Regions from separate parts of the Homo sapiens genome. Here region 2 is linked to region 1. The links come from fine-mapping of genetic effects on gene expression. A gene starts in region 1. The other region holds a variant in brackets. All regions are shown on one strand. Distances are between the middles of the regions.

Region 1 (5,382 bases):
ATAGATGATAATTCAAGCCATGAGGCTAGAGGTGACCACTTCACTAGCCCCTACGGAGTGAATAGAAAGGAGGTGGAAAATCTAGCTTTGGGGCTGGGCGTGGTGGTTCTCGCCTATAATTCCCCCAGCACTTTGGGAGGCTGAGGTAGACAGATCACTTGAGGTCAGGAGATTGAGACCAGCCTGGCCAACATGACGAAACCCCGTCTCTACTAAAAATATGAAAATTTTAGCCAGGCATGGTGGCAGGCACCTGTAATCCCAGCTATTTGGAAGGCTGAGGCAGGAGAATCACTTGAGCCCGGGAGGCAGAGGTTACAGTGAACCAAGATTGCCGCACTGCACTCCACCCTGGGTGACAGAGCGAGACTCCATCTAAAAAAAACCAAAACAACAACAACAAACCTAGCTTTGGGAAAGTCCGCCCTGTAGAGCTGAGATGAGGAGAAGTCAGCAGAGAGGCTGAGAAAGAGCAGTAACTGTAACTGTAATAGGCCTGTTGCCTGATGTGTGCAGCAAGTCAATATGCCAAGACGGAGTTGCAGTAGAAAAAGAGGCTTACCAATAGGGCCTCCAATCGAGGAGATGGAGGGGAACCTCAAACCCTCTCTCAAGGAGTTTGCGGCTTTTCTAAGGGTTTTTAAGGAGTAGGCTGAAGTGTGGAGACTGCTGATTGGCCAAAGGGAACAGGGTGAAATCATTGGACAGAGAGAGAAGCAGCTGTATTCTCATGCTGATTCCATTCCTCTGTTGGTGTCTTCAAACTTGTTGGTGTCAGCTGTTTCACTGGAATTTGTGATCTGAAAAACATTTTAAGCAATTTTTTTTTTTGAGACAGAATTTTGCTATTGTCGCCCAGGCTGGAGTGCAATGGTGTGATCTTGGCTCACTGCAACCTCTGCCTCCCGGGTTCAAGCGATTCTCCTGCCTCAGCCTCCTGAGTAGGGAGGCTAGGGAGGCTGGGATTATAGGTGCCCGCCACCATGCCTGGTTAATTTTTGTATTTTTAGTAAAGATGAAGTTTTACCATGTTGGCCAGGCTGGTCTCGAACTCCTGACCTCAGGCAATCCGCCCGCCTCGGCCTCCTAAAGAGTTGGGATTACAGGCGTGAGCCACTGGGCCTGGCCTTAAACAATTCTTAAGCAAAAGCCTTATGATTCCAATGTCAGAAATCCTACCTGTAGGAGCAGTGGAGATGCAAATGGTCAGTATCTAGTGCTACATGACTTTTGGCTACAAGGAAGTGGGTCAAATTACAGCCTGATTAATGCTTAATTATAACTCTATTTCTGTGCAGAATTCGTGTTAACCCTGTGAGGATGGCTTCAAAGTGAGGTAGGAGCAAGCCGGGAGTGTGTGGTGTCCTGGAAGCCAGGGAGGAACGCGTATCAAGGAGGAGGGAGGATCAGCCAAGTCCACTGTGGCTGATAAATCAAGAAAGAGGAGGATGGGAAAATGGCCATCTGATGTGACAACACTGAGGTCACTTGTGACCTTGACAAGCACTGTTCCAGTGGAGTGGAGGGGAGTAAAGCCTGACTGGTGTGTGCTCATGAAGGAATGGGAGAGAGGACTTGGGGGCTGCAAGGACAGAACATTATTTACATGTTTATGATCTGTCTCTCCACAGTTGCATGAAAGAGCCACGAAAGCCAGGACCCAAGGGTATCTTATCCATTTCTGTATCCCAGTGCCCAGCACATTGTATTTGTTAAGCCATATTTTATATTTTATTAGCCAGTATCTCCTTCAAATGTGGGAGCCCATAATTTTCCAGTTTGGTCACACCAACAAAGACTAGAGAGGAATGACAGGGTTGGAATAGAATTCTCTGGTTCCTTCCAGCTCTAATATTCTATGATGGTGTGAACTTGTTCTATCAAGTACCATTGTATTAACACAGTAAGGAATTTAATTAGTGGTCTGCTATTGTTAATTTGTTTTGGTAAGCAACTGTTAAATGAAATGGCTGGAATCAGTGTTCCATTCATAAATTTAACAAACATTTGTCGAGTGCCTACAATGTGTTAGGCACTATATATATTGTCCCATATAACAGATTTAAGAGCAGAGGGCCTAGGATAGGGGTGAGTGGTCAGGAGAGGTGATGGGGACCTCCCATTGCTAATGCTCCAGGAGGTCCAGGGTTCTTTGATGTGGCTGGCACTATTCTGCTTATCACTGAGGAGAGAAGAGGCTCCCAGTGGCCTGAGTGGAGGGGTTACCAAGCTGCAGCTGCAAGGGACACAGAGCAGCATTCACCAAGGCACAACAAGCAGCCTCTATCTGCTTCACCACTGAGGAGCCGAGGGCCCTCACACAACAGCTGTTTCAGGCAGTGGGAGGAGAGGAAGATGTGGTCTTCAGGTCCACCCTGCCACAGGGCCAACACCAGATTTGACGCCACATCTAGCGCTTGAGGCTTCTTCTGTGGCTGAACAGCGGCTTTAGGCTTTCTCTGCACGATCCTTCCTTTCTGCTTTCATAGGCCTTGTCAGGCAGGGCAGGGTTTAGCAGTTGCATTCTAAGGCGAGGAGAGGAGGGCTCAGAGCATTGCAAGACCTAAAGGGGAGGGTCAGAGCCAGGACAAGAACCTAGGGGTACTCCTGCCCCTGGAATAATGGAGAGAACATGGGCTCCGCAGTCTACCCCTGGATGAAATAATCTTCATTTGATTACCGCTCCACCCGCATCCTTTCTGAAACAAAGTACCTCAGTTTCCTCATTTGTAAATTAGGGAGAAAAATGTCCTTCTTACAGGGTTCCTTGCAGAATCAACGGCATAATGTGAGTGAGAGCGCTTTGTAACTAACATACAAAGTGCTCTCCAGACATTTATTACCGTTTTAAACCGCCAGGCCAAGCTTCCTCTTGCAATTATAGATTAGGGGCTCCTACTCATCTGACTTTGTTCCACTTTCCACTCCTCTTCTCCGTCCCTCCCCCTCCAACAAAGAGAGGAAGTGAGAGACGCAGAGGCACGCGTCTAAGGACCAGCTTAGCTGGCCCAGGGTCACATGCAGGCCTCCGCCACAGGGGTGAGAGCTGGTGTGAGGGGCGCCCCCGCCCAGAACTACATTTCCCATCAACACTTTCGCGACTCCTGGGCGGCAGCGGCCAGGCGCATGCGCCGAGTATCGCCACGCCTGGTCTCTGGGACGCCCCTCCGGACCGGTTTCGCCTCGCGGAGCCGGTAGGTCCAGGTGCAGCGGCCGCAGTGCTGCGTCCGTGCGCCGCGGGCTGGGGCGGTCTCAGGTGTGCCGAAGCTCTGGTCAGTGCCATGATCCGGCAGGAGCGCTCCACATCCTACCAGGAGGTACGAGGTTGTGAGAGACGGAAGGGAAGTTTGAGGCGGAGGAGCAGGGTCCCGGGGGCCTGGGCGGATGCGGGGCGGGGGGTGTCGGGGCTGCGCGGCAGAGGGCTCTTCCGAGGGACCGACGGGTGCGTCAGGGGAGGGCTCCCGGGGTGCAGAGGAGCGGCCCAGGGGCAGGAAGGAAGCGGGGCAGCGGAGCGGGCGCCCAGCGTTCTCCGTATGCTGCGGGTTGCATGGCCGAGGTCCGGAGTAGGGTCCCCGGCGCCGCGACCCGTAACCAGCAGGTGAATGATTGAAGCTACCTGAGGCCCAGCCTTCCGCGCTCCCCGCCGGAGCGGCAGCCCAATGGCCCAGAGGAACCCGGCGTTCTTTGCAACAAGTGGAGCGCCCGCGCCCTCCTCCCGGCGAGATCTGATGCGCGGTCGGCATCGTCGGCATCCTCCCCCTCCAAGCCCAAGGCCTCGCTGTCCCCGCGGCTGGTGACAGGATTGATTACCTGTTTTTTGGTGACCACCTAACTTTGAAAAAGTGCCTTCATGGACTCTGCTAGTTCTCGCTCCTCTTCGTCTCTCCCTCCAGTCTCACCTCCTCCCACGACTTTATCACTTTCCAGTTCTTTGTCTCTTCTCTGTCCTGCGCTGCAGGCTGTGCGTCCAGCGCTTCCTTCAAGCAAGCCCTGCCTCCTCACTTCTCCAGCTGTATTAGTGAAACTGCTCTCCTCCTCCGCCTCCACTTCTCGGCCCCCAAACCTTGGTCATCTTTGGCAACCGTCCTCTTCTGTGCCCCTCCATCGTGCCGCCTCATTGGCCAAAGTCAGGCAGTTCCAGGTCGGTCCTCCTCCAGTTTGTGTCCCTGTGTTTGCTGTAACCTCTGAGTGCGATACTGTGTTACCATCGCTCCCTTTAGTCTCTTATACTCTCCAGATTTGCCTTGAGGCCCTGCCTTCACCTCGGAGCATTCCTTTTTTCTCAGACCTGACGCTGCCCTTCGTCTGCCCAGAACAGTCCAGACTTCTCAGCAGGCTCCCAAAGCTCTGAACAGCACAGCAGCCATGTCTCCCATTACCTTTGCCACCTCCTAACCCACCTAGGGTCTGGCACAGTGGAAACTCAGTTTTAAAATGTGCTCCTGCCTCTGTGCGTGTGCTCACTCCATTCCTTCATCAACGCTCCGCCAAGCTCCATTGGGTAAAATGCCCCCAGAAGTCAAGGGCTACCTCAAGTTCCATGTGTTCCATAGGGGTCCGCTTTCCAGACCCGTCTGCATTTCTGTCTGTCCTTCTCATAATGAACTTGCTGCCTTCTGTCTTAGTCAATAGTTACTGCTGTACATATCTCCCTTTGTAAAAGACTGATTCACAGAAGGGCTTTGTGGACTATATAAAGCAGGTGGCTTAGCCCTACAGTGGAGGGAGAAGCCAACTTGAAGGCAGATGAGATTTGCCTAAGGCTTGCCATTTTTTAGTGTAGGATCTTGGCTGGAATCTGGCCTTGGACAGATTTCTATATTTCTCCTCCCATCCCCTTTATTCCATCTGTTTCCTTTGTCTGAAAGGAGTCTGAGGGATTTTAACCAGTGCTGTGGATTCCATGACCCCTAGATTCTGTACCCTAAACAGTGGGGGAATCCTGGGGAATGAGATGTGTCTGAAAGTTTTTAGGTTTATAGGGTGTGGAGCACAGTGGATAAAAGTCAGAAAGCCCACGTTCGTGCCTGGCTGTGCCTCTTGCTGTTTGTGTGACTTTTATTGAGTCACATAACTTTCTGAGCCTCAGTTTCTTTGTCTGAAAGATGAAGATAATAAAAGTCCCTACCTCCCAGGGTTGTTTGGGGATTAGATAAGTTGGTGTGGAAAGCGCTTGGCTCAGTGTCTGGCAAATGGTGACCCCACAGTGAATGATAGCTCTTGTTAACGGTGTGGGCAGCTCCTGCGTCCAGGATGCTTTGGGGTCCTGGCTTAGCAGGAACATGTGCCTCACCATCCACACATAGCCAGCCTAGCAGGGCTTATAAAATGTTTATTAAAATATAGGCACTTACCCCGCTTGGAGGGCCAAGGCCCAGGGTA
Region 2 (5,382 bases), 76 kb after region 1:
AATAAAGGCTAAGATGATGGCTACAGAATATTACCCTAAATAATCACTTCATATTAAAAACACACCTTTTCTTACCAACTTAGTGGGGAGATTTCAGATCTCATTATAAAATGTAATGAGTTGATAAAAAAAATTTTTTTTAAAAATTCACACCTGTACTCCCAACACACTTTAGGAAGCTGAGGTGGGAGAATCCCTTGAGCCCAGGAGTTTGAGGCCACCCTGGACAACATGGTGAGACCGCTGTCTATACAAATAATCAAAAAATTAGCCAGGCATGGTGGCGTATGTCTGTTGTCCCAGCTACTGGGAGGCTGAGGTAGGAAGACTGCTTGAGTCTGGAGGTCAAGGCTGCAGTTAGCCGTGACTGTGCCGTACCACTGCACTCCAGCCTGGGCAACAGAGTGAGACTCTGTCTGAAAAATAAATAAATAAATAAACAAACAAACCTAGAAACTATATATTCACCATTTGGTTTCCTAAGCTGATAAACTTTGAGATTTATTTATTGCTTTACATAACTTGATGCAAAACGTTAAATTACAGGAGCTAGAAAATAAGGACAATGCCTATAAAATTAAATATTTCTTAATTAAATATATTCCTATTTTGTAATCCATACTCACTAGGAAGATGTTCCTTCCCAGTGGACTACTACCTACCTCAATTTAATCACTACAGAGTTTCTTAAATGCAGAGTCAACAACCTCCAGATAAAACAGGCAGTGTATCATTAATTTTTAAAAAGAAAGGAAAAGAAAAACTTCTGGTCTTTCTATAAAACTACAGTGGGAAAACTAATTAAATCAAAACCAGGCATATCCTATCCACACTTGAGAAATAATGAACCAAATTACGTAAGTACAGGGCTAGGGAAGAAATGTCTGTGTACCAACCACAGCAAATAAACTAGAAGTCATAGCAGGCCTTCTATAAAAGTGCCAAGCAACCTACAAGTAATAGCAAATGTTCACTTGCTACCACAAATCAGAATTAAATATTTGGTTCAGCTTGTCACTATCATACCTGCTTTCAAGGAGAAAGGCAAATATGACTAAAGTTTTTTTTTATTGTAACCTAATAGGTATAAAAAGCAGAAACTTAGCCCAAAATGTATCTTATTAGCTATTAAACAATACTATATCAATTTAACACCCTAAAAATAAAAAAGGAGGATTCTATCCCAAAGCAAAAACAGTCATTCAATGAACATTTAGGTAGCCAGTTAGGTTGATGTAGAAGTTAGAAAAGAAAAAGGGAAAAGAAAGATTGCTACATTAAATTAATAGACCTTAGAGCAAACAAAAGCACTACCAGATCTAGGCCTTATCATTCACCAAGTAACAACACATTTTTACTACTGTGAGTTCAGTAACAGTCTACAGCTAACAAAAGTTTGGGGATCTGAGCAAATACAATTTTGCTTGATGTATCTCTGCCCAACTGTGGAAAAGGAGTGATGCTTATCTGGTCTAATGTTACCTAACATTTTGTGTTTATCATAAATTAAGGATATAACAAGAAATAAAACTTGATAGCAATTTAAGTTTTTATTCATAGATAATTTTCTAATCAAACAACAATAGAGATAAAAGATAATTTTGCTTTGGGGTATACACGTGCAAAAAGATATACAAAACTGATCACAGAGCGCTCTGAAAAGTCAGCACAGTCTCATGGACTGCTATGCAGTTTCATTAACGGCACAACTTAATTCATTCAGTGCCTATTTTCATGTCCAGTACTGGGCTATGTATAGTATGAACAGACATTAGGGATGGTATGGCTCAAAAAGCCCATTCACTACACAAAAATTATATTATGTGGCACAGACTATAAGTGCAGGAGCTATTTAGAAAAGGGCTGTATCACTGTGGAATAGGTAGGAAAAGCTTTAAGGAGGATATGCAACTTGAGCCCTGCATTTGTTTTGATTCTAGATCCTTTGTTTTGATTCTGGATCCTCAGGAAGAGGATGGCTTTTATTTTATAGAAATGTAGCAGCATGTCTTGATTTAAAAATATATATATTTATTTATTTTTAGAGACAGAGTTTCACCACGTTGCCCAGGCTGGTCTCGAACTCCCAGGCTCAAGCTATGCACCCGCCTCAGCATCCTAACGTGCTGGTAAGGTGTAAGCCACCATGCCTGGCTTTTTTTTTTTTTTTTTTTTTTTT[A/TA]AGCAGCATGTCTTGAGATGAAGAGAATGCAGAGTATAGGTTGATGGTATGGAATTATAGACTCCAAATCTTTATGCAAATCCCTGGAGATTCCACCATAAGGTGGGATCAGGTTAAACATTAAACATGAGCCAAATGTGGCATGCATTAGCCTATTTACTCTCCCTTCTTAAGATCTTCATCAGAAATATAGGGTTTAAGGCTTAATAGTTTTCAGAGTAATAGCCTGTCCTATGGGAGACTTTTATGACATCAAGCTACAAATCAGACTGAATTCTCTAATTCTCTCAAACTGAATTCTCTAAACCATATATATAATTGAACCATATATATAATTGAAACCTGTGCCATTCACAAATACCACATATAAATTCTTTCATAGTTTTCATCTACATCATTTACCTGACACAGTAAACATTAGGTGATCAGTCAAAATTAGCAGCAAAATGCTGTTATGCCGCCAACTTAGCACCACTAAAGAGATGATGACAAAAAGTTACTTAAATACATATTGAGGTCCGGGTGCAGTGGCTCACACCTGTAATCCCAGCACTTTGGGAGCCTGAGGCGGGTGGATCACCTGAGGTCGGGAGTTCCAGACCAGCCTGGCCAACATGCAGAAATCCCGTCTCTACTAAAAATACAAAATTAGCCAGACATGGTGGTGCATGCCTGTAATCCCAGCTACTTGGGAGGCTGAGGCAGGAGAATTGCTTGAACCTGAGAGGCAGAGGTTGCAGTGAGCCGAGATTACTCCATTGCATTCCAGCCTGGGCAACAAGAGCAAAACTCCATCTCAGAAAAATAAATAAATAAAAATGATGAATAGTTATCCCAAATAGAGGTAGAAGAAACACTAGTGATCTACAGAGCTGGAAATCTTCAAAATGGAATAATTGAGATTATGCTTCTATAAAATTTATCCTGTCCCAGTGTCACTCTCTATTTACTCCATCCTACATTTTAAAAAATGTATCACACCGTAACATAGAATATATGCCAATTATTTTATTATTATTTTGTTCTTCTCTGCTAGGATGTAAGGGATTTTGCTTAGTTCATTACTTTACCCTCAATGTTTACAAAAATGCTTGACACACAATAGATGCTTACTGAATGAATGAAAATCACATTTGTTAAGAAGGTGTGTTTCTACGTAGTGACTGAAGTTTTTCTATGGTCTTGTTTTCTTTCTTTTTTTTTTTTGAGACAGAGTCTTGCTTTGTCGCCCAGGCTGGAGTGCAATGGCGCAATGTCGGCTCACTGCAACCTCTGCCTCCTGGGTTCAAGCCATTCTCCTGCCTCAGCCTCCTGAGTAGCTGGGATTAGAGGCGTGTGCCACCATGCCTGGCTAATTTTTGTATTCTTAGTAGAGACGGGGTTTCACCATGTTGTTCAGGCTGGTCTCGAACTCCTGACCTCATGATCCTTCTGACCTCATGATCCACCTGCCTCAGCCTCCCAAAGTGCTGGGATTACTGGGATTGCTGGGATTACAAGTGGGCGTGAGCCACTGCGCCCAGCCTTCTATGGTCTTCTATACAAATAACTTGCTCCAAGAATCTAAGAAACAGTGTTGCAAAGAAAAACAGGCACTTCACCAGTGAATTCAGTTCACTAATAAAATGACAAACTTCAACTATGTTCAATGTATGGCTAGTCCTTCTACTTCTGTACACCAAAAATACCCTAAAAAGTGAAAGATAACTAAAAAGTATAGGGAATTGAGGAGTGTAATCTTACTATTCTACTGAGTTCTGACCATGTCTTTCCTAAGGGAGTTAACATAAAACATAGAATTCTGGTCTTCACCATTAAAAAGACTTGGGAGAAGTTCCAACAGAAAACAGCATAGATGATTAAAGTATCTGAAAAATAAGACCTATACAAAAAGCTAAAGGAATAGAAATGTTTGGGTCAGAGAGGCAAAGACTCAGAAGCAAACTTTAAAGACCTACAAGTACCTAAGAGGCTGCTTTCAAGTAATACAGGTGACCAATGTTTTCCAACCTCTATTAAGAGGAAACGTAAATAAGGTTTTTAATTGATTTAATATATAAAAGAATTCATATAAAAATTAATGCATAGTCAACTATATGAGATATTATATATTAAGCACCCAAAAAGAACATTGCCTGGGATGAGGTAAACATTAACAAAATCTTAGTTTTTTAAGAATCTGTTTTTCTCTGTAATCCTTGTGAAAACACAGATTGTGCATAAACCTTGAATAGTTTAAATACAGGGAGCCTAGGTTTTTTCCCTCTGCTCTTTTATCCATAAGAACTAAAAAGATAATAACTATTCACAATGAAAAAGGCCAAAGCAATGAAAGTATTTCTCAACCTTATATAAAAGATATTCCTTTTTATTTTTGTGGCTATAAAGTTAGTGCATTAGGCTATGATTCCTACCATTTTGGATTCTTAGCCCATGAAAATATTTAAAATATAGTATATGGCCAAGAGTTATTTGAATGTAAAGGTGTACACTGTAATATATGTATGTTGCTAGTTTAAATTTCTAATTATATTGCCCAGAGAGAAAAGCCTTCTAATCCCTAAAATACAACTTATTCCTAAAAAGGTCTATGTTCTAGGCACTATCCTACATAATTAAATCTTAATTATCTGTGCCACTAAAGTAATTAATAAAAGAAAGTGAAAATACACAATCTGCCTGTATTCCAGGCTAGTACAGCAGCCAAGTGTCCTAATTATCTAAAAGTGCAGAAAATTAATATATTGTTAGTCTTCAATAAATAGAAAGCAATAATACTTAGGAAAGAAATGAGAAAATAATTTAAAACTGTTGTACATTAAGTTACCATGTAATACTACACTTAATAAATTAGAAGATACAACCTATCCCCTAATACTGAAATGACCTTCCTTGTGGTCCTTTCTTCTATCTCTTTTTATTCCATTATTCCATTGCTCATTAGTATTTCCATTACAGTGTAAGAATAAGTAAAAACAGATAAACTTTTATTAGCACATGTTTAGAAAATTCATGAAAAGGGTGGGGAAACAAAGGCTTGAAAGGTTTTGAGATTACTTGTAATTACTCCCTCATTAACAACTAATGTTTATTTTCCACCCTAATAAATTAGTTTCTAGCATCTAGGATCTCATAAGCTAAATGTAAAACGTAAACTTTTAGTACGAAACAAAAGAATTCCAGGTGGGTTAAGCACACATTAT

Direction of the effects. Alleles are on the strand shown, and positions count from the first base shown. SD is a standard deviation of normalised expression in the study named.
With allele A in place of TA in region 2, the expression in CD4 T cells of the gene that starts at base 3,153 in region 1 is lower (moderate effect, 0.60 SD a copy in BLUEPRINT).

The links. PIP is the estimated chance that this variant, and not a neighbour inherited with it, causes the effect.
Region 2: its variant is the best candidate, but not a certain one, in a credible set for the expression of PACC1 in CD4 T cells (BLUEPRINT, PIP 0.60).

Annotation. Positions count from the first base shown.
Region 1 is chr1:212,412,657-212,418,038 of GRCh38, reverse strand. PACC1 (proton activated chloride channel 1) reads left to right here and starts at 3,153. Exons shown (of 8, transcript NM_018252.3): 1 at 3,153-3,317. The coding sequence starts at 3,282. RefSeq lists a silencer at 3,442-3,501.
Region 2 is chr1:212,336,790-212,342,171 of GRCh38, reverse strand. All of the region lies in intron 3 of PPP2R5A (protein phosphatase 2 regulatory subunit B'alpha), which reads right to left. Among named protein-coding and RNA genes, the nearest start is that of SNORA16B, 13 kb to the left of the region's middle. The variant A/TA (reference allele first, on the strand shown) is at 2,180.